Regions from separate parts of the Homo sapiens genome. Here regions 1, 3 and 4 are each reported to be linked to region 2. Evidence: microRNA targets listed by miRTarBase, many of them from high-throughput screens and not tested one by one. Region 2 holds a microRNA gene; each other region holds the end of a gene's coding sequence.
Evidence for each region. Region 2 holds the annotated microRNA hsa-miR-6801-3p (ACCCCUGCCACUCACUGGCC, at 2,317-2,336, shown strand). A microRNA usually pairs through its seed, bases 2 to 8, with sites in the 3' UTR of a target mRNA and lowers its output. Matches are read on the target gene's strand: a 7mer-m8 pairs with bases 2 to 8, a 7mer-A1 pairs with bases 2 to 7 and ends in A, and an 8mer does both.

Region 1: the mRNA of TOM1 is a reported target of hsa-miR-6801-3p. Seed matches in the 3' UTR shown: 7mer-A1 at 1,219-1,225.
Region 3: the mRNA of TBX2 is a reported target of hsa-miR-6801-3p. Seed matches in the 3' UTR shown: 7mer-m8 at 1,544-1,550 and 7mer-A1 at 1,771-1,777.
Region 4: miRTarBase lists OR1L8 as a target of hsa-miR-6801-3p. The part of its 3' UTR that is shown has no 7-base or 8-base seed match.

What each region holds. Positions count from the first base shown.
Region 1 is chr22:35,346,597-35,351,990 of GRCh38, forward strand. It overlaps TOM1 (target of myb1 membrane trafficking protein), which reads left to right. Exons shown (of 15, transcript NM_005488.3): 14 at 334-373; 15 at 459-1,377. The coding sequence ends at 613. Among named protein-coding and RNA genes, the nearest start is that of MIR6069, 12 kb to the left of the region's middle. RefSeq lists enhancers at 2,721-3,253, 3,254-3,786, 4,377-4,885, 4,452-4,571 and a silencer at 4,232-4,351.
Region 2 is chr19:52,219,758-52,225,093 of GRCh38, forward strand. It overlaps MIR6801 (microRNA 6801), which reads left to right and starts at 2,263; the gene lies at 2,263-2,341. It overlaps PPP2R1A (protein phosphatase 2 scaffold subunit Aalpha), which reads left to right. Exons shown (of 15, transcript NM_014225.6): 10 at 1-107; 11 at 432-492; 12 at 1,222-1,376; 13 at 2,342-2,484. RefSeq lists an enhancer at 1,803-3,002.
Region 3 is chr17:61,407,301-61,412,694 of GRCh38, forward strand. It overlaps TBX2 (T-box transcription factor 2), which reads left to right. Exons shown (of 7, transcript NM_005994.4): 7 at 754-2,166. The coding sequence ends at 1,206. It overlaps LINC02875 (long intergenic non-protein coding RNA 2875), which reads left to right and starts at 4,451. Exons shown (of 1, transcript NR_160788.1): 1 at 4,451-5,394. RefSeq lists silencers at 2,188-2,247, 2,258-2,307, 2,318-2,467, 3,628-3,797, 5,318-5,377 and an enhancer at 3,166-3,748.
Region 4 is chr9:122,562,853-122,568,246 of GRCh38, reverse strand. It overlaps OR1L8 (olfactory receptor family 1 subfamily L member 8), which reads left to right. Exons shown (of 5, transcript NM_001004454.2): 5 at 1-1,130. The coding sequence ends at 699. It also overlaps a transcript of OR1J2 not described here. Among named protein-coding and RNA genes, the nearest start is that of OR1N2, 12 kb to the right of the region's middle.

The sequences.
Region 1 (5,394 bases), not on the chromosome of region 2:
CCACTGGGCACCAGGTGCTGGGCTTGGCGTGCTGTGTGTTATCCCATTTCAGCTTCCCAGCAACCCTCCAAGTTAGCTTCAGCCCCCACCCCGCCCCCATTTTACAGAAGGAAAACACAAGGCTCAGGAAGTCAGGTGCCACCCAAGGAAGGTCCTACGGCTCAGGGAGGAGCCCAGGTCCAGGTCCTGGGACCTGGGTGGTGGGGGCGTGCAGAGCCTGAGCTGGGACCCAGTGCTGAGGTTCAGCGGGGCCCGAGCTGCAGCACCACTGCCCCAGGCTGACCGTACTGGGGGCCCGGCTAACCTCTGCCTCCTTTCCTTCTACCTTCCCAGGGTAATGATGCGGAAGAGCCTAAGGGGGTCACCAGCGAAGGTAGTAGTCCCCGCCCCTGCCCGCCCTCTCCTTTCCCCAGGGCTCTGGCCTCAGGGCCTACCCTCACCCTCTCCCCTTCCTCTAGAATTTGACAAATTCCTGGAAGAACGGGCCAAAGCCGCGGACCGATTGCCCAACCTCTCCAGCCCCTCAGCTGAGGGGCCCCCGGGTCCCCCATCTGGCCCAGCGCCCCGGAAGAAGACCCAGGAGAAAGATGATGACATGCTGTTTGCCTTATGAGTGTGGGGTCTGGCACCCTGCAGCCCAGGTCCCCACTGCTCTCACACCCTTAGGCTGGGACCTCCCTCCCTCCTCTGGTGTTAAGGCTGCTTTGGGGGTGGCTTGTTACCCCCTTTTCCTCCTCTTTGAAGACGGAGCTGCCCCAGCTGTGGCTGGGGGTGTGGAGGCAGTGGGATGAACTGGGGGACAGGTCTGCGCTGCAGTGGGATCTGGCTGCTCTGCCTCCTTTCCCACCCCAGCTGACCATGAGACTTTGCTGAGAAGTGGAGGCCCCAGGACAGGCTGGCTGGCTGGCTGGCTGCTTGACCCAGTGTGACTCTCCTTCACTGAGTGATACCCTGCTCCGGGCCCATGCCCCAAGGAGCCCTTCAGAGCCCACACTGCCAGTCGAGGCCTGGCTGGAGGCTGGCCACAGTGGAAATTCTGCCGAGCCTCTTGTCCCTTCCCTGCTCTGCTGCATGGGGCCCCATGGCTTTGGCTGGCCACTGAGGGTAGGGTGTGGAGGTGTGGAGGCCCCCTGAGGAGCTGCGGCGGCCCAGGTACGAAGCTGCAACTCTGCGCGCAGTGGGCGAGATCTCATCAGCCCCAGGCTGCAGGTGAGGCTTCAGGGGATGCTGGGGCCCCACTGCCCCTCCGCTGCCTTGCCCTCCATCCTTCCTCTGTTCCTTCTGGCCGGGCACCACAGCACTGGGGCTCACCTCTTGGTTGATCCTCTTGTACTGGGAGAGGTGCCTTTTGTATCCCCAATTAAAGGTAGAAAACCACCCTGCTAGCAGCATTGTCAAGTCTCCTGGTCAGAAATGACTTCTTGGCCTCACAGAGGCAGCGACTACTTTGGGCAGGGCTGGGGGCCATCCGAGAGGTGAGCATCTGTAGATGGTGCAGGCGGAAGGACAGGAGCAAACACCCAGCTACACTACGCAGGTGCCGCCTCCTCCCACCTCACATGGCAGGCTCCAGCCACCGCCCCTGCCCGGAGGATGCATGCCCTCCCCAGCTGACACCCCTCCCTCCTCAAGGCACCTTCGTGCTGCTGTTCCATGAGGCCAGCTCCTGCCCTGCACAGAGCACACTAATCACAAGGGCGGGGACCTGTGTGGACTGTGTGCGCATGTGGGGTGCACAGGCCACAGGAGGATGCTGGCCTTCCGAGGCTGGGTGCCAGGCACAGCCTGGGGCTACGCACTGGCTCGTAGCATCACAACAGCCTGGGAGAAGCAAAGTGAGCGTCCTCGATGTATAGATGCGGAGACTAGGACTCCATGAGCCGCCCAGCTCAGAGGAGGAAGCTCATGCAGTTGTCATGTGCCAGCATTTCCTCATGCAGAAGCGCATCCTCCCCATTTTCCAGGCACCAAAGCTAAGTTGGGAAGACATGGCACACAGTTCCAGACGCTGGGCCCCAGGTCAGGTGCAGGGGGTCAGCTCTTCCCTCCATGGCAGCTCAAGAGCCCCAGGTCTTAGGGTGCCACCTTTTCAGGTGTGGGATCTCTAGGCCAGACTCCCTGGGAGTCACTGCTGAGGCATGTTGGAGCCTCCTGGCCCAGGACACGGTCGGGGAACGGTGTGAGGCCAAAGCAATTGGGTCCACAGGGTCCTGGGCTCCTGGGAGAGGGCCGAGGTCTGTGTGAGCAGCCACTGATTCCCATGGGCAGTGGGCAGGCAGCACCTGCCATCTGAGGTATGGTCTGGAGCTGGGCATACAGGAGACCAGGCCCAGCCCAGCCCTCAAGATGGAGTTGGGGCAAGGAAAGCAGCTGGGGGCAGGCACACTGGTGCCAGGCAGGGGAGGGGGAGGCCCTGCCGCCATCAGGATGCTCATGGTCCAGGCCAAGCTCCCTCTGCCACATCCAGGGCATCTGTGAGCTCCTGCCAGGTGCCCTACCCTGGCCCAGCCCTTTCAGTACCTCACAACAGCCCCAGGGGGTCAATGGTGTTGGCCACCAGTTACAAATGGGGAAACTGAGGCTGAGGGAGGAAGGGACTTGCCTGGTCATACACTAAGTAATGGAAGACTGGGACCCCCAACCTTCCTCACTGCTGCCTCACCTGCCTGCCCCACCCACACCCCACTGCCTGCTTCCCTCATTCTCTCCCTACTTAACTGGGGACCTCTTAGAGGGGAGTTGTGATTTTACAAGGATCAAAGCCAAGGCCTCCTCTCCCCTGTGTTAGCTGGGAAACCCAAGGAAACTTCCACAGAAGGCCCCCAGGGCTGGGAGGGCCTCAGGTGCTAAGGGTGAAAACTGCCAGGTTGTTCATTCCTCCCTGTGGGTGCATCCCCTGGGAGCCAGCTGCACACAGCATAGCGCTAGGTGCCCGCCAGACAGAAGTGAAGCGGCCAGGTGCCAGCCCTGTGGGGTCACGTGGGAGGGAAAGGGACGAGAAAGACAGACATAAACTCAATCATTGTTTCACGCTGTGAAAAGAAGAAGATGGGACGGGACGCCCAGGGCCAGGAGGCTCTCTGTGAGGACGGCCTAAGGCTGCTGAGGTAAGATGGGGTGGGCTGGGCCATGAAGGGCCTTGAATGCCAGGCAGGAGGTGGCCCCTGCAGAGGTCTCGGCTTGGCTGGCTGGAACAGTTCCAGGCTGCCTGAAGGCCTCCTTCAGAGAGAAGGCTGCTGGGGCTGCATGGGGGCTGGGGGGGGGGGCGCTGGCGGGAATTCATCAGTGCAGTCAGGCTGGGTTCCCTGGCAGCAGGCTCTGTCTGAGGCTGCAGGCCTGGGCGGGATCACTTTACAGCTGCAGGAAGTCTTGGCCCCAAGAAAATGAGGGCCAGCTGTCTGGTGGGAGCCTTGGGTAGGAGCAGGGCCTCCACCTGGCACCACAGGGCAGGATTAACGAGGTGCCGCCGCTCCCGCTGGGCCCAGCTACATCGGAAGGCGCTGGGCCGGGGGCATGGAGGGGAGGGGTTGAGTGGAGCTGGGAGGGGCTGGTGGGCAGGGGAAAGGGCGCCTGGGGGGCAGCCCCAGGCCTGCCTTTGAGGAAGCCTTTTGCAGAGCCTCCACCAAGCCCTCTCCCTCCTGGCTCCCCTGGGCCACCACGATCCCACCCTGGGCCTGGACACCGACCCCTCCACCTCCTGCCCTAGTGTCAGTACCCACCTCCCAGACCGGCCACTTCTGGGCTGTGTGACCTTAGGCAAATTACTTAACCTTTCTGTGCTTCTGTTTTCTCACTGGTAAAATGGGCAGATAACACTCGTTGCCTCATAGGGTTGTTAGGGTTGACTGAGCCAACAAGTAACTCAGCACCTGCCATGTAGACAATGCTCTGTACATGTTGTTATTGTCACGGATGGTTCCCTGCTCCCTTCCAGAATGGCCTCTGCTCCAGACACCTGGCTCAGAGCCCTGCCCCTCAGACTCCTCAGTAATTCTAGGGACCCCTGCTCTGCCTCTGGTATTGCCTTCCCAGCTCCAGAATAACGTCTGTCCCTACTCCCCACTGGGAGAGAACCAAAGGACTGTGTCTGTCTTTCCTCCTGGTCTGGGCTGCTAACCCTAAGAGGGTCAGGGCTGTCTTGATCCTGGCAACACGGCAGGGTCCCCCTGGCGTTCCTGGATTGGGCTCTGCGGGCTCTCGGTAGGCGCTTTAGGAAGCCTTTGCCCGCTCCAAGGTGGCTGGAGGTAGGCCCAGTTCTGAGTCCTGAGCACGGTCTACGGCCCCTGCTCAGGGTCAGTGTTTCAAGGCGACCACGAGATGGCAGTAGCACTGCATGTACAGGGCTTGCCGGGGCACTAGGGTGGAGTCCACCGCGGCCAAATCAGCCCCTCCCGGGTACAGACACCGGGAGAAAGGGGCGGGTGCTGCCGGCTCCTGCCCGCTCCTGCCCCGCGCGAGCTCACAGGCGCGCGCGTGCACACACACACGCGCACACGCCCTCTGACTGGTGGGGCTGAGTAACAATGGTGATGGGGCTGGGAGCTGGAGTCCGAGGGTCTGGCTTCACCGCCGGGCTCTGCTGTGGGACTACACAAGGGATTTCATCTCTGGAAGCCTCAGATCTTCTTAAACGTCCCGATTCACAGGGTTGTGGGGAGGATTTGGTGAGACAAGCTGGGAGCTCAGCTACGGGAGCTTTGGGTGGGCAAAAGTGAGCCCGGTCCCCTCCCTCTCTTTACAGAGCCCCGGTGTGCCGTTGCTGGGGCCCCCTGCTCCCGCGCCTTCTCAGCCGACACGCTCAGATCCGTGTGCATTGCCGTTTCTGTCTCCACGTGTAGACAAATCATGAGCTCGCCCAGTAACTCCAGCTCTACCACAGATTCCTTCTCTTTTCCGCCCTTCCCCTATGTCTAATTCCCTTCTCCAGCAGTGAGAAACCTGCTTCCCGCCGTCCTTCATTCCTTCTCTCCCCCCATCCCCGCAGAAACCAATCTCTGTTGCCACCACTGCCCCGTCCTGCCAGTGCCTCCCACCCTCTCCGCGTGGACCGCCACCACCCTGCCCCACAGACAGGCCCCTAGACACAGAAATCTTCTTTCTCACAGTTCTAGAGGCTGAAGTTCAACATCAAGGACGTGGACTCCATCTGTTCAGTTGGTTCCTTCCGGCCCCTCCGTGGCTGTATATGGTCATCTTCTCCCTGGGGCCTCACATCATATCCCCTCTGCATCTCTCTATGTTCAAAAGTCCCATTTTTATAAGGACAGCATTCATCAAGGATTAGAGTCCACCTAATGATCTATTGTACCTATTGTACCTTAATCACTTTTTTTTTTTTTTTTTTTGAGACAGAGTTTCACTCTTGTTGCCCAGGCTGGAGTGCAATGGCGCGAT
Region 2 (5,336 bases):
AGCTGTCCCAGTCCCTGCTCCCTGCCATTGTGGAGCTGGCTGAGGACGCCAAGTGGCGGGTGCGGCTGGCCATCATTGAGTACATGCCCCTCCTGGCTGGACAGCTGGTGAGTGAGGAGGCCTGGGGGCCAGGCAGTGCTGCCTCAGGGGAGGTGCAGTATGTCCAGGGCTGTGATGGGGAAACGGGGCTTTGAAGGCTTAGTGGAGGCTGTGACAACTGCCTGGGGAGTCGAAGGAAGGGACCCAGGAAATAGGGCCTTAAAAGATGCATTGGATTCAATAAGAGAGAGGAGGGAAAGGAGCACCTCAGACAAAGTTGAGAAGTGTCCGGTCTTTCTAGGGTGGGTGTAGGTTCCATGGGATGTGGCTAGCAGCTCCCCCTGTTTGCTCTCCTGGAACGCTTACCTTGGAACCCTTGGTTTCTCCTGTAGGGAGTGGAGTTCTTTGATGAGAAACTTAACTCCTTGTGCATGGCCTGGCTTGTGGATCATGGTGAGTACCTTCACAGGAGCAGCAAGAGGAGATGGGAGCTCCAGAAAGGCAGGATGGATTGGCTGGGGCTGTGGCGGGCAGTGGAGGAGGCTAGAGTCACTCCCCACGCCGCTGGATGCTCGTATGGACCAGCTCGCATGCTTGTTAGAGTCCTAGAGAAGTGTTGAGTGGGAGGAGGACGAAACAGATCACCCAGGGGTTGCCTGGTATAGTGGAGAGCCAGAGGGCCACTGAGCAGCCAGACCAGGGTTTTGAATCCTGCCCTTGGGGCTGTCAGATCTAAAACAAGTCACCTGCTGTCTTTGAATGAGCCCCACACTCATTCTTTGAAACTTCTTATTCTGGTGCCTTGGGGCCATTATGAGAATGGCTCATTGTTTACACTAAGAGAGGTAAAAAATAAAAGGTAATATTTATCTCTGTGAAGCCCTGTTTGAAGTAATAAGTGCCACATAATTTAGGCAAATCACTTCTTAGAGCCTTAGTTTGCCCATCTGTAAAATGAAGCCAGTAGTGGAACCTACCTCTTGGAGTGGTTGAAAAGATACTGTATAAAAAAAAACAGTTACTAGATATAGCACATAGTAAGTCCTTTTTTCTCTCTTTGGCTCACATGCAGCCTGGCACCTAGGGGCTGCTTTGTAAGCCATGGTGAGTGTGACCTACATTTTGCCCACATCAGTTCTTCACCTCCAAATCCCTGTCTCTCTCACCCTCACCCTTCTGCAGTATATGCCATCCGCGAGGCAGCCACCAGCAACCTGAAGAAGCTAGTGGAAAAGTTTGGGAAGGAGTGGGCCCATGCCACAATCATCCCCAAGGTCTTGGCCATGTCCGGAGACCCCAACTACCTGCACCGCATGACTACGCTCTTCTGCATCAATGTGAGCCTTCCACCTGCCTGCTGGCCCATCCCTAGGGAACTGGAGCGCGTGGGAGAGGAGGGATGCTAGAGGGTTCCCCAAGGGAGACACCTGGCTTGGGAATGGAGACATGGAGTGCATCTTCTATCCAGAGATGAGTCCTTGGGGAACTGCAGGCAAGGGGGTGGGGCTCCCAGGGTCAGGGTCATAGGGCCTCTGGGACTGGGGACTTGGATGGTGAGGGACCCAGGGCCTGGGAGACTTGACCTGTTGGAGCAGCGATCTCAAGCTTTATGAGCACCCCTCTCCTTCCCTGAGAAATGTGTGTCTCTATCTGTGGTGCGTTGGGTGAGTGTATGGGCTCTAGGTCAGACCTAGTTTTAAATTCTGGTACTGCCATATATTAGCTATGGACCTTGGATAGTTACCTAACCGATGCTTTGGTCTTCTCATTTGTAAATAATTCATACTGTAAAGAATTCATACTGGTAATCACAGCCTGGTGAGCGTGAAGATTAATCAGGTTATACACGCACAGGGCTTAGAACAGTTATGCTACAGGTAGGAAGTGCTCCTGTCTATTTGCTTTTCCTACGATTATAATTATCTCATGTACTACTTATTTATGTGTAAACCATACACAGGGCTAGAAAGGAAGGGATTTAAAAATAAATATAACTAAGTGTTCTGATCATTTCTTCCCACGCCACTCTCTGGAGAGCATTGCTTTAAGGAGGGATCCTAGGGCTTGGTAATTAAGGTCGATCTCCAGAATAATTAAGGGAAGCCTGAGGACAGAGAAACTGGGACATGGTGTTAGGATGGTGTTAGTGGAGTTGGGAGATTCACTCCACTAACTGAGTCACCCGTATTGCTCAGCCTCTGTGGGGCCTGATGATCACCAGAGTGGCCTGGTCAGAGGCAGCAGGAAATGAGAGTTAGCCAGGAGCTTTGCATACTCACCCCTGCCACTCACTGGCCCCCAGGTGCTGTCTGAGGTCTGTGGGCAGGACATCACCACCAAGCACATGCTACCCACGGTTCTGCGCATGGCTGGGGACCCGGTTGCCAATGTCCGCTTCAATGTGGCCAAGTCTCTGCAGAAGATAGGGCCCATCCTGGACAACAGGTGAGGTCTGGATACTCCCCCACACACTGGCAGGGGCTTCTTGTGGGCACCTTAATCTTTGACCTTTGAAGGTAGAGCCCAGGGTCAGAGGCCTGGCAGCGCTCCTTGCTTGCTGTGTGACCTTGGCTCCCTTCCCTTCTCAAGGTGTGTTTTCTCAACTGTAAAATGAACATCACAGCATGAAATAGAAAGAGGGGGTGATGGGTTGGCAGTCCTGTATACTAGCAACAAGTCATTAGAAAATGAAATCACCTTATGTTTTATATGTAAGTATGTGTATAATTTATAATTGCACCAAAAATATCAAATAGCCAGGAATAAATTCAATGAAAGATGTGTATGTAACACCTCTAATGTAAACTGTAAAACACTAATGTGAGAAATTAAAGCAGACCTGACCAAGGTGGGCGGATCAGTTGAGGTCAGGAGTTCACGACCAGCCTGGCCAACATGGCGAAACCCCGTCTCTAGTAAAAATACAAAAAATTAGCCGGTGCGGTAGCACTCACCTGTAATCCTAGCTATTTGGGAGGCTGAAGGCAAGAGAATTGCTTGAATCCAGGAGGTGGAGGTTGCAGTGAGCTGAGATCATGCCACTGCACTCCAGCCTGGGCGATAGAGCGAGACTGTCTCAAAAAAAATTAAAGCAGACCTACATAATATTCACGGATGGGACAGTTCCCTGAACTCATCTTTAGATTCAGTATAAGCCCAATAATCTTAACAGGTTCTTTAGTGGAAAATTGACACTTCTAATGAACAAAGTTGTCTGATTTACACTACCAGAGACGAAGACTTATGACACCACAATAATTAAAATAGATGTGAACACAAGCATATTTAAATCGCCCAATAGAATGGAATCAAGGGTACAGAAACAGTCCCACATGTGTTTAACAGTAGGCATCTCTGCAGTTCAGTGGAGAAATGTATGTTTTTTAAAAAACATAGCTGAGTCAATTTGATATCCATTTAGGAATAAAAGAAGGCTCGCCTCAATGCATAAACAAATTAATTTGAGATGACAGACCAGAACCAGAAAGATTTTAAAAATAAAGGACCTAGAAGAAAATGTAGGAAAATATCTTCTTGAGTTAGCGTAGGCACAGATTTGTTAAACAGCAAACCAGAGGAAGTGATGGGTAAGTTGACCTTCTGTAAAATGTAACGCTGTTTCTCAAAAGACAGCATTTTGAGAGTAAAATGCAAGCCACTGACTGGAGGAAGATGTTTTAATATATGTTTCTGAGAAAGGACTCATCCACAATACCTGTCTACAAATCAGGCAAGACAAGAAAGAGATGGGGAAAAAGACTTGAATAGGCACTTGAAAAAGGATCTCCAAATAGCCAGTAAGCATATGACAAGGGTGTTCAGCATCATTAGCCTTCAGGAAAATGCAAATTAAATCTCAGTGACATATGACTACACGCCTCCCAGAACAGCCAACATTAAAAAAGACTCAGTGGTGCAAATGGTGAAGACATAGAAGAGCTGGAACTCTCATCCATTGCACGTGGGGCTGTACATTTAGGGTTTGATCACTCTGAAAACGGGAGTGGATCTGGAGTGGAATTTGGTGAAGCTTGTTATACAAACAGCCTGTGAAACAGCCCTTCCACTCCTGGGTCTCTATCCAGGAGAAATGAGTGCTGTTTCTGTCAGAAGAATGTTCATGGTAGCTTTATTCATAGTAGCCGTAAAAATGGAAACAACCTCCATGTCTGTCCACAGTAGAGTAGATAAATTTTAGTTCATTCAAACAGTGGAAAACTATTCAGCAGTGACGAAACAAATGCCTGCTATAAGCAGCAACAGGTGACTCTCACAGATACCATGTTGAGTGAGGAGCCAAAATCAAGAAAACACACCATTTATGTCAAGTTCAGAAACAGGCAGAATGAAGGAATCGAGATGATGGAAGTAAGAATAGTGGTTATTTGGGGAGAACAGGGAACTGTCAACTGAAAGTGTGGGACCCACAACTGCAGATTTCTCTTTCTGTCTGTTCCAGGACACAACCTCAGCTTTAGTTTCTCTCCGAAGTCCCCCTCCGTTTTCCAAAACAATTGACTCTTGGTGCAGGCGGATTTCCCTGGGCCCCATAGATGAGAGTGGATGCCTCCTCTGGGCTCCTGGAGGACCAGGAACTTCCCCTTGGGGCCACTTACCACTCCCCTCTTACGTACCAGTTTGGTCTCTTCCTCCTGGCCCGGGTGCCTCATGGCAGAAATCAAGAGTGATTTAGCTCTGTATTCACTCCTAATACATTGTAGGCCTCAGTGAATATGTGTGAAATCAATGAAAGATACCCATTTGCTGGGCCTCAGAGACTTGGGGGTTCTGAGATTCTGTTCCACTTTCCCAGCCTGCTCTGATCTCCCTGTTTGGGGCCCCAGTCCTTGTTTATCATACTTCTGACCTTTAAGTAATTGGTTGGTTGGTTGGTTTTTTGCAGTTTGTTTGGTTTTCCTTTGAGGCAGAATCTCGCTCTGTCGCCCAGACTGGAGTACAGTGGTGCGATCTCGGCTCACTGCAACCTCTGCCTCCTGGGTTCAGGCAGTTCTTGTGCCTCAGCCTTTCAAGTAGCTGGGATTACAAGTGTGCACCACCATGCTTGGCTAATTTTTGTACTTTGAGTAGAGATGGGGGTTTTCCCATGTTGTCCAGGCTGGTCTTGAACTCCTGGCCTCAAGTGGTCTGCCCACCTTGGCGTCCCAAAGTGCTAGGATTACAGGCTTGAGCCCCCGTGCTCGGCCTTGAGTTTACCTTTTTTTTTTTTTTTTTTTTTTTGAGACGGAGTTTCGCTCTTGTTGCCCAGGCTGGAGTGCAATGATGCAATCTTGGCTCAC
Region 3 (5,394 bases), not on the chromosome of region 2:
TCATCAGCCCCCTGCCCTCCTCCCCATACCCACTAGCTCTGGGGAGTAAGCCATTATCTCAAAGGTCAGGCCGTGCACCAGCCAGACCTCATGAACTCAGGAAGGTGCTTGTCCAGGAGTTCCTGGCTGCTGTGCCCTTCACAGGCAAAGACTGCATTCCTTCCTCAGCTGCCAGTGAGGTGCTGCCAGGCATTCCCTGTAGAACTTTCAGGCCAGTTTATGAACTGGTTGGCACCCGTGTCCTCCTCCTGGCCCAGGCAGGAGAACCATGAGCAGGCAGAAGGAGACTTTGCAAAGTGCCTTCCCCAGCATGTGTGCCCTCTGCCCTTCAGAGCCTGCAGATAGGAGGGGTGGCGAGGACACTGTTCTCAATGAGCAGAACCTCCAAGACACCCAAAGCTGCCTGTTTGCCACCTGGCCCTATGCCTGCCCCGTTTTCTCCCTCAAGGCCTTCACCCGTGCTAGGGCAGTCACCTGGAATGTCCTTTCCATTACCCCTGCTGTAATGCCCAGCACAGAACTTGATGGCAGGCCTTTGCATGGTAGCCTGAAGCGATCTCACCCTTCTAACTGGGTTTGGCCACAGGCACACTGGCTCATGCTTACCTGTGCTGCCTGTGGTTATAGTTATGCGAATTGTGGTTTTACATCCCTAAAACAGAAGGGCACGGTGTCCAGGGGATAGCACCCAGCCCAACTTCAGAAAGACTTCAGGCAAGATGTCTAACCCTCGTCTTGTTCTGTTTCTTCCAGGGAATTCCAATGCCCACTTTCGGAGGCCTCTTCCCCTACCCCTACACCTACATGGCAGCAGCAGCCGCAGCCGCCTCGGCTTTGCCCGCCACTAGTGCTGCAGCTGCCGCCGCCGCAGCCGCCGGCTCCCTCTCCCGGAGCCCCTTCCTGGGCAGTGCCCGGCCCCGACTGCGTTTCAGCCCCTATCAGATCCCGGTCACCATCCCGCCTAGCACTAGCCTCCTCACCACCGGGCTGGCCTCTGAGGGCTCCAAGGCCGCTGGTGGAAACAGCCGGGAGCCTAGCCCCCTGCCCGAGCTGGCTCTCCGCAAAGTAGGGGCCCCATCCCGCGGTGCCCTGTCGCCCAGTGGCTCGGCCAAGGAGGCGGCCAATGAACTGCAGAGCATCCAGAGACTGGTGAGTGGGCTGGAGAGCCAGCGAGCCCTCTCCCCAGGCCGGGAGTCGCCCAAGTGAGGGGCTGCCCAGCTGCTCCCCTGCCACGCAGGCCACCCGGGCTGCCTGCCCCTGCTGCTTGGGACGTGTACAGCACAGAATGAGTATTTATTTAAATAAAGGAGAAAAGTGGGCTGCAGCAGCCGGAATAGAGCCTCGTCTGGCAAGTCGGGGCCTGGGACACTTCCCTGGGCCTCAACAAGGATCAGGCTGCTGGAAACACAGTCACTTGGGAGCTGCTGGGCTAGGTCCAGATCCGCTCCAGCGTCAAGGTGGCATCCGAAGGTGTCTCTGGTCTTCCAGCGAGGTGGGAGAGGCCTCATCCAGGGCCCAGCGGTCCCTGCAGAAGCCAGAAGGTGCAGGGGCCAGGGGTGGGAGCATCGGAGGGAGTCCCAGAGCCCTGGACCTTGGGCCTAGACCGCGTGATAAAACTGGGTTGAGGGATGCTGGAACCAGTTACGACTGAAGTCAGTGTAGACCTGAGCTGGGAGGGAACCTGTTAGTCTCCCCACCTCTTCCCTGAAGAGACAGGCACCCCTCCCAGCCGTGGTCAACGGAGGGAGTGGCACTTCTGCCTTGAGTCCCCAGGGGAAAAAAAAAAAAGATATTTATGAAATAAATGGTAATTTGTGTAAATAAGCTTTAAGGTTCCCAGAATATGCAAATTGGTATTAATTTATTCAAAGGTGTACATTGCTGTGTACATATATTTAGAGATTAACTCATACATTTAAAGTTTTTTTCATTTTACGTGAGCATCTATATTGTACAGGGCTGGGGGGGCCCTTGGCTGCGGGAGAAGGCCCAGAGCCCTGGAGGAGCCACCACCCCGCCGGCCCCTCGACCCCTCGGCCCCTCGGCCCCTCCGCCCGGGTTTGGCTCGCCCGGCCCGCGGGCTCCACCTCAGGTTTTCACTTTTCGCTCCGGAGCGAGAACGAAACGACAAAAACGCAAGAAAACAATAAAACGCTAGAAAGCGAAGTGAACGGCGCTGTGCGCTCTGTGGGTCGCGCGGGGCTGGGGCGCTGCACGCGCGCAAGGAGGGACGAGAGGCGGGGACAAAAGGCTGCGCGCCCCTCGCCCGGCGGCAGCTGCACCCCGGGGACGGCAGGGCGGCACGGCGGCAGGGCGGCTGGGGCGCTGGCGGAGCCGCGAGGCCGGGCGGCGCCGGCGCGGGACGCGGGGTGCGTCCCAGGCCGGGGCTGGACTCCCCCTGCCGGCCGCTCCCGCAGCTCCGCGCAACGGGCCTGGGCACCCACCCGGGCCGGGAGGAGAGCAGCCGAGCGGCCTGGACTCCTGGCTTCTGACTCCCTTTCCGGGAAACCACACTGGAAACCCATCTCCTTTCAATGCTTCTGGGTGGGTGGGCTGGGAGGATGGGTGTTCCTTGTCCAACCTCTCCCTTCGGAGGAGGGGTTTGGCTGTGTCCCACCCCCGTACTCCCCGCCAAATATCGCTGAGCCTAGAATTCTTTCCCCTCTCTCTGCCTCCTGAACCTCAAAGACAAACATTTCCTCCGCGTCAGGGCTGTTGGCTAGAGTGGCAAAATCTGGACTAAAAGGTCTTACTTTAACTCATCTATCTAAATCCCTCTTGGGAGAGTGGAGAGTGGGGTCAGTGGGCTATTTCCATTCCTGCCTCAGTTTCCCCTGTATAATAATGGGCTTGGCTGGGGTCTCTCCGGGGTCCAGCTGTGTCAGTCTCCATTAGGCTGGTCCTTCCCCGAGACCCACTCCTGCAAGGACAGCTGCCTCCCACCCCGCGCCGGTGAGCTCCCCCTCCTTGCCCAGCTAGCAGGTGTCTCCAGCCCCCACTTCTAGCAGTGGGAGCTGGGCGGGCACTCCTTTAGCCCTGGGTCTGGTCGGTCACCGAGCACGCCACCTCCTTCCCAGTTCTCTCCTCTTTAAGCCTTGGGGACCCTGAACGCCCTGCCCCAACAGGCTGCCCACCTTGGGCACTGCACAGGGTGGGGCTTGGGGAGGGTGCTGGCTTCCAAAACACCAGGGACGTTGAGATGGAGGAACGGTGATGGTGAAGGTGGAATGGACAGTTGGGCCCCCAGACTCCCAGGACGCCTTTGTGGGCCGATACATTTGCAAGGAGCGAGAGAGAGAGAACCAGGCCCGCCTCTTCAGGATGGTGCTGCCCCCAGGCCACGCCGAATGCGGCTGGAGCAGGGAGGGGACTCAGCCAGTGCACGAGTGGGAGGTTGCAGTAGAACGTATCCCAACCCCAGAGGGTGGGTTCTGGCTTCCCTGCCTCAGACCTGCGGGCAGGTCCGGGAACCCGACAGGGACAGAGAAGCCCGTTTTCCAGCCTAAATAGAAGCTCGTGGGCAGCGCGTTTGCTGGAGGTCGCTTTGGGCTGAAACGCCTCTCATACTCCTAGAGGAGCGGCGCGTTTGCGTCCCGCGGCTTCTCACTTTCAGCAGGACATTAGGAGGGAGACGAGAGTCGGCTGCGCGCCCGCGGCGGCCTACGTACAGGGCTGCGGACACCAGGGGGCAGCACCGACTTAGGGTCGCGGGAGGGGTGCGGGTGCGGGCATGGGCGCGGGGGAGGCGGGTGCCTGCGAAGGCCGGGCGGGGCGGCCTAGTCGCGGCCGTTTTTAGGCCGCGTCGTTGCTGCAGCAACCCGGGTGGGGTGGGGTGGGACTCCAGGGCCTCGAGATCCCCCACACCACTTTCGCCGCCACCTCCCGCCGCACATGTCCCCTCCGAGTCGCCCACCCGGCGCTCCGCGGGGCCCCAGCTGGTAGCCTGAGTGCGACTGCGGGAACCCGCGGCCGGCGGCTGGGCCTTGTCCCAGACAAAGGCTAGGCCACTCCCATGTCCAATTAAGCCACCCTCCTCCCCGGCCTCCCAGCCCTCATTGTCCCCGGGGTCGCCAATTAGCCTAGGCGCCCGGCGTACCCGCCGCTCCGGTGCCGCAAGGCCTCCTTAACCCTTCAGGGCCTGGCCCGGGGTCCTTGGACGGCAGAGCCGCCGGCACACGCGTGGCAGGAGGGCCAGTGCTGGGACGATGGCGATACCTGCTGGCGGCCTAGCCTGTCGCCTCGGGCTCTCGCGTGTGGGGCGTGTGAGGTCTAAGAGGGAATTGTGCGTGTCGGTGTGGGGTGGCGCGTGCGATTCCCGGAGGAACTCGGAGATGGAGGGTGTGAGTGCAGGGGCTCCGAGAGACCCCTAGCGGCTAAGCCGCCCGGATCCCAAGGCCCAGGGGACCTCATTTCCTCTCGGGTTAATCGGAATCTTCCGAGCCCTCAAGCCCTTCCTCCTCCACTCCCCCGCCGCTGCTGTGGAGAACCGGAGCCACCGGTATGGCCTGGCCCTGCCCTCCCGAAGGCCGCAGCTCCCGGGCCCGCCTCCCCAGCTGACCGCGAACTCCTGCGTGGGGTGCTCCTGGGGCGGGAGGGGCGCGCTCAGCCTCGCTCTCCCCGGGACTCTCACGCTCAAGCGCCCCGGCTTGAGGCCGGGACCCCCTATTTCCCGGTTATGGGACGGCCCCTTGAGGGACAGCCTCTACGAGCCCTGGATTTATACCCCGAGCCTGCCTTCCTCCGCTCTGGGAAGGACCCAAAATCCAGTCCCGCTTCCTCCCCCTCCTTCGCTGTCCTTGGCCCCGAGGTGCGGAGCACCGGCGGTCAGGCGGGATCCCGCAGGAGGCCGAGCGCTCCCTGCTCGCAGGACAGGGCGGCAGCGGAGGGAGCCCCCGCCCTCTTGGGAGGAAGCCCGAGCTCCGGGTCTCCTGGGCACCCTCCCGGGAGCGCCTTCGGGGTGGAGGCTGGTTGCCGGGCGCTGAACGTGTCCGAGCACGCCCGGGGCGGTTTTGCACTTGGACTTCCTTTTGGGCTCTCCGGAGGCGCATATCTGTTCCTCCTATTGGATGGGGCCGGGGACCCCAAACCCACTCCGGAAGCACCGATTTCCAGCGCTGACGGCCGCGCCTGGTTTCCCAGCGAGTCCTCTTGGCAGCTCCCGCAGCTCCCCGCCGGGAGCACGAGTGGGAGCGAACCCAGAGCCCGCCCAGGCCTCGGGCCTCGGCAACTCCTCACAGGTCCACGAGATGGCGCTGCAGGCCAGGGCCCGGGCCGCGGCCTCACAGCCCGCCTCGGGCGAGAGCGGGAGATAGACTGCGGACCCCGGCAAGCGGGGCACGGAGGCACAGCCACCGACACAGGCAGAGCCGGGTCCGGAGCCCGGCACAGGCCGCC
Region 4 (5,394 bases), not on the chromosome of region 2:
GTTGTCCCCAAGATGCTGATGAACTTCCTGTCAGAAAAGAAGACCATCTCCTATGCTGGGTGTCTGACACAGATGTATTTTCTCTATGCCTTGGGCAACAGTGACAGCTGCCTTCTGGCAGTCATGGCCTTTGACCGCTATGTGGCCGTCTGTGACCCTTTCCACTATGTCACCACCATGAGCCACCACCACTGTGTCCTGCTGGTGGCCTTCTCCTGCTCATTTCCTCACCTCCACTCACTCCTGCACACACTTCTGCTGAATCGTCTCACCTTCTGTGACTCCAATGTTATCCACCACTTTCTCTGTGACCTCAGCCCTGTGCTGAAATTGTCCTGCTCTTCCATATTTGTCAATGAAATTGTGCAGATGACAGAAGCACCTATTGTTTTGGTGACTCGTTTTCTCTGCATTGCTTTCTCTTATATACGAATCCTCACTACAGTTCTCAAGATTCCCTCTACTTCTGGGAAACGCAAAGCCTTCTCCACCTGTGGTTTTTACCTCACCGTGGTGACGCTCTTTTATGGAAGCATCTTCTGTGTCTATTTACAGCCCCCATCCACCTACGCTGTCAAGGACCACGTGGCAACAATTGTTTACACAGTTTTGTCATCCATGCTCAATCCTTTTATCTACAGCCTGAGAAACAAAGACCTGAAACAGGGCCTGAGGAAGCTTATGAGCAAGAGATCCTAGGAAGCACCCTCTTGAAAAACTCGTAAGTGGAATCTGCTCAACTTGGACGTGTTTTCTACTGGTTTCTGGTGAACAGTCAAAGCTGTTGGAAGCTAGCACTTCTGACCCATGTGAGACAAGGCTATTGTGGGCACTTACATCCATTGATGATGACCCAACAATTCGGCCTGTATCTCTTAAATCACAATCGTTTCCTGTCTGTGTCTCCTCTTTCTTGGAAAGATTTATTTTTTCCACTTTCTCATTTTCCAAAAACTGCTTTAATCTAATCCTTTCCCCATGAATATTTCCTAAACAAATTTCTCTCCTTTTATTAAGGCAGATCCTCCAAAATTCTTCACATTTCAATATATTGCTGAAAAATGTGTAATTTGTAGCCATTGAATGTTTTTGCAAAAAAATTGAAAAGAGAAAGAATGAAGGAAGAGGAGGATATATATTTTAGCTAATTTTCTCTTCTTGAGAATTTTTATAATTTTTTATTTTTCTCCTTCTAAAAATGTTTTATTGCTTAAATCTTAAGCTTTTACTTTTTTATCTTTCTATCCTTCCTTTATTATACTGCTGTAGTTTTATTTACTTTTAATTTCCTCTTATATTTTATCATACAATTTAAAAATGCTAATGGTCAGAAAGAACAAAAACCACAAGGGATAACATGGAAATTATCCATTTCACACAGGGGAGGTTGAAACATTTCTTCTGGTTCACCTTCCCATAAACTATGTGTTTAAAATGTGTGATTTAATACTTCGTCTAGAAACTGTCATTTCTAGGACTCTAGCCTATAGAAATATTATTATAAATTTGTATTGAGTAATATTATTGTAAATGTGTATTGAATATTGTGAGATATATGTATATATAATCTCCAAAGATGTTCAGGGAAATCCCAGTTTATAATAGGTAAAAATGGCAACAACCTAAAACCTTTTCAATAGGGAAATGGAGAAAGATGCTATGACTAATTCCATAAAGTGTAACTATATGCAGCATGTTCAAAGAATCAAATATATCTTTACTGCTTCCTTGAAAAGCCATTAAGTAAGAAAATTAAGATATGGAACAAATGTAAAAGTATGAATCCATTACATTAAAACATTATATAAATATGAATGTACATATGTGTGTAGCCACTGGGGTAAGAATGGAAGGGCAGGGGGAAACATGGAGGGAGAATATTTCCTCATCTTTATACACAGTTGTAATGTCTGAATTTCTTCAAATAAACATTTATTGCCAATGGAATAGAAAACTATTAATAAACAAGATGACCTATGCAATGGTGAAAGACTTCATAAATTACCAGTTGAAGAAAAACTTTCTGAGTGCATGCATATCTAAAAACACGATTTTGGCACGTTTACTTTAGTAGACAATTTGATAATTTGATAGGATGCAGCATTCTAGGTCCAAAGCTTTTCTTTCAGATCTTTTAAAGATACATCTATATTATTCCAATGCCTCGGGTGTTTTCAGTGATAAATAAGAGGTCACCCTAATTTGTGTTCCTTTGTAATGATTTCCTTCTCATTGGATCATACTCCATAGATCCCTAACACCAAACATGGCTATGCTGCCACTGCTTAGGCCTTGGAAGAGCAGACCCTGATTCCACCTACTTTACTCCAAGCCTGAGTTTAGGAGTCCAGTCATTGTTCTTGACTGTGTGTATTCTCATGGGTGTCAACATGTAACAAAAAGGTAAAAAATAAAATACTAGGCAAACAGTTCTTAGAGTTGAAATCAAAAGCAAAGAGCATGATCCATAAAAGGAAAAATTTTAAAGTTGAACTTCATAAAAATTAAACTACTAGAAGGTGAAGGTGGGGAGAAGGTAAGTTAAAAACTACCTGTCAGGTATTATGCTCACTACCTGGGTGACGGGATCCATACTTCTTCTATGACAGAAGCAGACTAATGTAATCAACATACCACCAAGTAATTGGCTAATCACCCTTGGGAATGGTGCCATTGGGGGGCTCAGCGTTGGTCTCTGCTGCTGGCAGACTGGGCACTCAAAGGTGGCAGTGGCCAGGTCAGCCCTGGTTAGTGGGAGTACATGCTGCTGAACCCATACATAACCTCCATCCCTGCCGCCATGGCCATTTTGTTCATGAGCCCATTGGGCGATGACAGTGGTGGCTGGGGAAAGAGACTCACTGGTATCCACAAAACGGGTCATCCTATCCACTTATTAAAACCTCCCCTTCTGAGGTCATGCTTTGGTGAGTATTTACATGGGACACAGATATCTTCATATCTTTGCCCATTCATAGAGGTCTATTCACATTGCTCTTCCCCAGGTATCTTTGTCATCAATTTTCCAATCATGTTGCTTCCAAATCCCTGATCACCCAGAATGTGTTTCCTCTAAAATCCAAATAGATGCACCAGGCATAGTGCCTCTCTCTTGGGTGTAAGAGGGGCCAGACACCTATCCTTCACCTTAAAAGGGCTATCTGGACAGGTCTCACACCACTGGACCCTATAAATTTCACGAGGAAGTATAAGTCCCTTGAATTTTAGCCAGATTTATTTGTACTTTTTGACACACAAATGTCCTACCAATGAGTTCAGACTCACTAGGTCTAATTGGCACAATGTTATCAATATAATGGACCAGTGTGGCATCTTGTGGAAGGACAAGTGGTCGAGAATTCTGTGAACTTGATTATGACATGGGGCTGCAGAATTGATATACTCCTGAGGTATGACAGTTAAGGTGTACTGCTGGCCCTGCCAGCTGAAAGCAAGCTGCTTCTGGTGGGCATTACAGACAGGGATGGAGAAAAAGTCATTTGCCAGATCAATAGCTACACACCAGGTACCAGGAAATGTTAATTTGCTCAAGCAGTGAAACCACATCTGGTACAGCAGCTGCAATTGGAGTCACTGCTTGGTGAAGCTTATGATAATCCACTGTCATTCTCCAGGATCCATCTATCTTCTGCACAGGCCAAATAGGAAAGTTAAGCAGGGATGTGGTGGGGATCACCACCCCTGCATCTTTTAAGTCCTTGATGGTGGCACGAATCTCTGCAATTTCTCCAATGATACAACACTACTTTTCATTTACTATTTCCCTAGGTAGAGGCAGCTCTAATGGCTTCCATTTGGCCTTTCCCATCATAATACCCCCCCACTCCACAAGTCAGGAAACAAATGTGGGGATTCTACCAGGTGCTAAGTATGCCTATTCTAATTATGCATATTAGAATTGGAGAAATAACCACAGTTGCACTGGGGACATAACCACAGTTAGAATTGAGGAAATAACCACAAGATGGGTTTTGGGATCGAGTGGACACACCGTAAGTTGGATCTGAGCTAAAATTTCATTAATCACATGACCCCCATAATTGCCTACTCTAACTAGAGGGCAACAGTGATGTTTCGTGTCTCCTGGAATCAACATCAGTTGAGAGCCAGTGTCCAGTAGTCCCCAAAAGATCAGATCATTTCCCTTTTCCCAATGCACAGTTACCTTGGGAAATGACAGGAGGCATCACACTACCTGACTTCAAAACATACTATAAAGCTATAGTAACTGAAACAGCATGGTCATAAATACAGACATATGGATAATGAAACAGAATAGACAACCCAAAAATAAATCATGTATCTATAGCCAACTGATTTTTGACAAAGGTGTGAAGAATACACATTGGGAAAAGCACAGTTTCTTCAATATATGATGTTATAAAAACTGAATATGTGTATGCAAAAGAATAACTAGATCTCTATCTCTTACCACATACAAAACTCTGCTCAAAAGAAATTAACAACTTGACTGTAAGACCTGAAACTATGAAAATACTAGACAAAGCCATAGGGGAAATGCTTTATGACATTGATCTGGCTAAAGATTAATTGGATAAGACCTTAAAAGCATAGACAACAAAAGCAAAAATAGACAAATGGATTTACATAAAACTAAATTGCATCTGCGCAGCAGAGGAAACAATCAACAGAGCAAAGAGACAACCTACAGGATGGGAGAAAATATTTGCAAACTATGCATCTGTCAAGAGGTTAATATGTGGAATATATAAGAAACTCAAATGTCTCGATAACAACAAAAAAACAAATAAATGATTTTAAAAATGGAGAAAAGACCTAAATAGATATTTCTTAAAAGAAGACATCTATATGGTCAACAAGCTTATGGAAAAATGCTCAGTATCACTAATCATTAGGGAAATGCAAATCAAAATCACAATGAAATATACAATAAATTATTGTTAACTATACTATGATGTATCCATAAAATTTAAAAATAAAAACAAACTTTTTAAAAACACAATGAGATATCACCTCATCCCAGTTAGAATGGCTATTATCAAAGAGACAAAAAAAAAAATAACAAATGCTAGTGAGGATGTGGAGAAAGGGGAGCACTTATACACTGTTGGTGAGAATATAAATTAGTACATCCATTATGGTCAACAGTGTCAAGATTCCTCAAAAAATTAAAATATATCTACCATATGATCCAGTAGTCCCACTACTGGTTATATATCCAAAGGAAAAGAAATAAGTACGTCAAAGAGTCATCTGCACCCTCAAGTTTATTACAGCACTATTTACAACAGCCAAGATATGGAATCAACCAAAATGTCCATCAGTGGATACACGGATTTTTTTAAGTGCTATATGTGCACAATGGAACACCATGCAGCCATAAAACGAATA